2 separate regions of the Homo sapiens genome follow, and region 1 is linked to region 2. Evidence: fine-mapped expression QTL. A gene starts in region 2. The other region holds a variant in brackets. All regions are shown on one strand. Distances are between the middles of the regions.

Region 1 (2,919 bases), 22 kb before region 2:
TTTTTTTAAACATAATGCTATGGCACCCTTAATAGACTACAGTACAGTTGACTCCTGAACAACATGGATTTGAACTATGCAGGTCCACTTAAACTGGAGTTTTTTTTTTTTCTTTGAGACGGAGTCTTGCTCTGTCGCCAGGTTGGAGTGCAGTGGTGCGATCTCAGCTCACCGCAACCTCCACCTCCTAGGTTCAAACAGTTCTCCTGCCTCAGCTTCCTGAGTAGCTGGGACTACAAGCGCACGCCACCATGTCCAGCTAATTTCTGTATTTTTAGAGACGGGGTTTCACCATGTTGGCCGGGATGGTCTCGATCTCCTGCCCTCATGATCCACCCGCCTCAGCCTCCCAAAGTGCTGGAATTACAGGTGTGAGCCACTGCGACCAGCTAGGAGATTTTTTTCAATACAAGTTACACTGAGTGTGCATGCCTCTTCTGCCTCCCCTTCCATCTTCTTTATCTCTTTGCACCCCTGAGACAGCAAGATGAACTTTTCCTCTTCCTCCTCCTTGGCCTACTCAATGTGAAGATGATGAGGATGAAGACCTTTAATATGATATACTTACTGAATAGTAAACATATTTTCTCTTAGGATTTTCTTAATAATGTTTTCTTTTCTTTCTAACAGTTAATTCTAAGAATACAGAGCACAATACACATAACATACAAAATACATGTTAATCGCCAGGCATGGTGGCTCACATCTGTAATCCCAGTACTTTGGGAGTCCGAGGCGGGCAGAACGCTTGAGCTCAGGAGTTCGAGATCAGCCTGGGCAACACAGTGAAATCCTGTCTCTACCAAAAATAAAAAAAAATTAGCTGGGCATGGTGGCATGCACCTATAGTCCCAGCTACTCAGGAGGCCGAGGTGGGAGGATCACTTGAGCCTAGGAGGCAGAGATTGCAGTGAGCTGAGATTGTGCCAATGCACTGCAACCTGAGTTGCAACCTGACTCTGCCTCAAAAAAAAAAAAAAAAAATCCAGTAAGGCTTCCCAGCCAACAGTAGGTATTAGTAGTTAAGTATTAGAGGAGTCAGAAGTTATACATGGGTTTTTGACTGCACAAGGGCCACTGCCCCTAACCTCTGTGTTGTTCAAGGTCAACTATATAGTGTAAATGTAACCTTTTTATAGACTAGGAAACCAAAAAGTTCATGTGACTTGCTTTATTGCAGTATTTGCTTTACGGCAGTGCTCTGGAATCAAACCCACAGTAACTCCGAGGTATGACTATAATTTGTAGAGCACGGAATGGTCAGGTTGTAAGAGTGGCTACTCATTAATTCAAGAAACTATCTGAGCACCTATGATGTGTTAGGCACCTTTCCAGGAACTGGGGATAAGGTAGTGAGCAAAACAAAACCCTCTGCTCTCACAAAACCTATAGGGTCATAAAGGGTTATGGCATTTTTCAGTAACTGTGAAGTAACAGTCCTATCCTATACTCAACTCAACTACATTACAAGAATAAAAATGACTCTGCTAATATTGTGTGAACTCTATATACCCAATTCCAAACATACAGGCTCTTTACTATTATCACATAACATATTTTACTGAATCCTATTATTTTGCTTAACCTCTGAAATATCTTGATA[A/G]CTAAGGCTATTTTTTTTAAAAAAGTGAATCAATTAATAATATTGCTAAATAAGAATTTGTTAGAATTAACCAGTTGCTTTCTCATGTCCATTAACTAGATCTGGCTGGTTTCTTCCTCATTGTGTCACTTAAGAGTTTATTTTATTCACTGAATTCCTATAAACTGCTAGTTACAACTAGTGGCTTGATTTAATATGGGCTCTTTTTTTTTTTTTTGGACAAGAGTTCTTTATTGGTACTATTACTACTGTTGTGTACTGTCTCTTGCATCAAACCAGGAGGTACACAATAATTGACTGTCTCATCTTCAATCAGTGGGTTTGATCAGATTTCTACATTATAAAATTTCCCATTAACCTATCATCTAATGGTTTTCACATCCAAGAAATACTGCTGTCTAGATTCACTACTTCATTAAGACTTTCAAACTTTTATTTTTTAAAAGTCTATCATTTCTTTTGCACCTATTAGCTGGAAATTTTCCTAAGAATTTTCCCTCAGTTACTTGGCTGCCTAAAATACAGTTCATAACAAGAAGGGCAGGATAAATATTATATTCTCTCCTTTATCAATCTTCAGAGTAAGAATCTGATGCCCTAGCAAACTCTGATGGTAACCAATGAGTTTTTCTGTTTTCTAATATTCTTTTAATAGCTTTTAATCTTTTTGTAGATGACAACATTATAGCCCAAACCAAAACACAATACTTGGTAGTTACTGATGAACTGAAGCTTAGTTTATAATCACATGTCACAGAAAGGATAACTACCATTACTGATATTTTCTTTTGACTTAGTAATTATTCCTCACTATAGTCAGGCAACTGAACACTTTTGTGAGTGGACATCTCATATACAAGGGGTCTTTAAAAAGTTTATGAAAAATGAGTATTAAGAAAAAACTATACATAGGTTTCAAAACTTTTTGCACCAAAATAAACATGTACTAAGCTGTTATAACATGTCTGAACAGAACCTAGTTTGAAACACTAAGAAGGATAAGACATCAGTTTGAAAACAGCCTTTACCAGAGCAACAGGAATTCTGCTAAAACTGAAGCAAGAACAAACATCAAATTGATGGTGAAGCTTGAGTGGAAGAATTGTGAAATCACTGATGCTTTTTGAAAAGTTTATGAGAAGAATGCCTCAAAGAAAGCAGCAGTTTACAAATGGGTAACTTGTTTTAAGAAGGGACAAGACTATGTTGAAGACGAAGCCTGCAGCAGCAGATCTTCCACATCAATTTACGAGGAAAAAAATTCATTTTGTTTGTAACCTAACTGAAGAGGACCAATGATTAACAGCAGAAACAAT
Region 2 (2,919 bases):
AACTAATAACTTCATATCTCTCACAAAGCAAACATTCTGTCTATACACAGAATTTACTAGAACCTGTGAGGAAACTGTAATCATTATCATTTCCGTTTTACAGAATAAGGCAATCAGAACAACTGACTTTCCTAACATCACAGACCTAGATCAGAATTCAGAACTCTGTGTCCAATCTTAGGTCCCTTCCAATATTACAACCTGCAAACTAATCAAACCGGCATCTGTTTTTACATTTCTTTAAAAAAAGCAAAGCAATTAAAAAAAGGACCCAATTCTGCTCAGAGACGAATATGTATTTCTTAATTTGGATCTAACTTTATAACATGGTGATCAACCCAAGTACACTGTACTCGACTCCGAAAATCCTGCTCGTCACTTTATATTTTGAGTCCTACTAGAGACTTTGATGAATTGCACTCAAGAAGACGCGGCCCCCACTACGCAGTGGCTACGGGAGATGGCTTCCAGGGCAACTGTTCTCCAAGTTCATTTCTGAGCGCCGGGTAACCATGGCCAGTAATTAATCCAATTCTAAGCGTTGCTATCAATTCTACGCGTTGCTATCAATTCTACTGATTTCCCTGATCGACCAGAGTCTTCCCATTGCAGGAGCTTTTGTCACAACTTAGGCTTTACCTGTACAACCGTCATCTCCACAGAGGAGCGACAAGCCTTTATGCAATATGGACACCAAGAAAACCGCCTTCGAAGACACGCAAGGCAAAATTCTTGCCAGTGTCCGGAAATACCCGTCTCTGGAACCCAAAAGTCAAACTAAAATTAAAAGTTCGGCTTAGCAACACCGCGAAAGGCGATGTAGGCGTCCACCTGGAGTTTAGCTGCCTCAACCTCCGCCCCGGCCTGCCGGGTCTCTGGGGACCCCGTCTTCCTCCAGCGGGCTCTGGGATGCGGCCCGCTCACCTCTGACCCTGGCCGGATCTCGCGCGTCTAAGCCACCGCGTTGCCAGTCGCTGGCCACCCACCTACCGCCACCGCCCACCTGTGCGGGTCGCCTCGCCGCTAGGCCCCAAGACGGCGCCGCCTGCTCGGCAGCAAAGCCCACCCGCCCCGTCGGCGGCTCAGTGCTGCACCCCCACCAACAGCCAGTTCCGGCGGCCGCACTTCCGATTGGCAGGCTGGGCCGAGGGGCGGGGAAGGCGGGCGGAAGGGGAGGAGCCGGGAGGGCGGGGCCGCTGCCAGGAGCCTGGAGCGCTGCGTTCCGCGCAGGACGCCGGTGAGGCCCGCAGAGACTTGCGTCCGGGCGGGAGGCGGGGCCCAGGATCTCTGCTCAATCCTGGAGTCCGAGTCCGCAAAGTGGGAGGGAGGGTGTAGATGTGAATTTGGGGAAAAACGACCCTGTTGAATTTCTAGAGTGGAAGAAACATAGAACTAGCTTTTCTCTTTGCTTAGCACATACAAATGGAAAAACAGCGACACCGTTACCTACATTTACTAGTCCAATGCGTACAACCTTCTGTAGTATATCAACTGCCAATGAGTTTATGTTTTTAAAAAAACCACCCCAGAGAAGGGTTCTAAAAATTCAGAAACCGCATTACTAGCACACATTGTAAGGTCTGTTTTGTTTTGTTTGTTCGTTTGTTTTTCAGACAGAGTCTCGCTCTGTCGCCCAGGCTGGAGTGGAGTGGAGAAATCTCAGCTAACTGCAACCTTTGCCTCCTGGGTTCAAGCGATTCTCCCTGCCTCAGTCTCCGGAGTAGCTGGGATTATAGGCGTGCACCACCACACCCGGCTAATTTTTGTATTTTTAGTAGAGACTGTTTCACTATGTTGGGCAGGCTGCTCTTGAACTCCTCATCTCAAGTGATCCACCCGCCTTGGCCTCCCAAAGTGCTGGGATTACAGGCGTGAGCCATCATGCACGGCCTGGGGTGAATCTTTTTAATGAGCATTTATTATTTGCCGTTCACAATGCCAAGGGTCATAATGAATGAAAGTGTCTTGGAATTAGAGTTAGTGGTTGCACACATTATAAGTGTATTAAAGTACACTCCAAAATAAAATCCGAACACATTAAGTGGTTACTCCCATTCCTCCCTCTCTCAGCCCCTGGCAAATGCCAATCAGCTTTCAAACTGTGGTACCTATTACGGATATTTCATATAAATGGAATGTGTGACCTTTTGGTCTGTCTTCGTAGCATAATCTTTTGCAGGTTCACCTTGTACACCTTGTTGCATGTATCGGTACTTCATGTCTCTTTATGGCTACTATTCCACTGTACCTAGATGCCACAGTTTTACCTGTCCATCCACTGATGGACATTTGGGTTGTTTCCACTTTCGGGCTATTGTGAATAGCAATGATATGAACATTTGTATACAAGTATTTGTTCGAGTCCCTGTTTTCAATTCTTTTGGGTATAAACATAGTGGAACTTCTGGGTCTTATAGTAATTCTACGTGAAAATATTTGAGGAACCCATAAACAAATGTTTCTACAGCAGCTGAACCATTCATTTTACATACCAAGAGCATTGTCGGGGGATTCCAATTTCTCCACATCCTCACTAACACCATAATTTTCTATTCCTTTGATAGTAACCATCCCAAAGGGTATAAAGTGGTATTTTATTGTGGGTTTGATTTGCATTCCCTAATGGCTAGTTATCTTGAGCATCTTTTCATGCCCTTGTTAGCCATTTGTATATCTTCTTTGGAGAACTCTCTATTCAGGTATTTCCCCATTTTTAAATTGAGTTGTTTGTGTTTTTGTTGTTAGTTATGTGTAGTCATATATTCTGGATATTAGACCCTTATGAGATATATCATTGGTGGATACTTTCTCCCATTCTGTAGGTTGTCTTTTCACTTTCTTTGTAATATCCTTCAGTGTACAAACCTTTTTAATTTTGATGAAATCTAATTTATCTATTTTGTTACTTGTGCTTTTGGT

What was found.
Region 1: its variant is fine-mapped to the expression of SUPT20H in whole blood (INTERVAL, PIP 0.97).

What each region holds. Positions count from the first base shown.
Region 1 is chr13:37,036,229-37,039,147 of GRCh38, forward strand. The region is part of intron 9 of SUPT20H (SPT20 homolog, SAGA complex component); the gene reads right to left. Among named protein-coding and RNA genes, the nearest start is that of SUPT20H, 22 kb to the right of the region's middle. The variant A/G (reference allele first, on the strand shown) is at 1,604.
Region 2 is chr13:37,058,556-37,061,474 of GRCh38, forward strand. SUPT20H (SPT20 homolog, SAGA complex component) reads right to left here and starts at 1,133. Exons shown (of 26, transcript NM_001014286.3): 1 at 1,004-1,133. RefSeq lists a silencer at 1,045-1,304.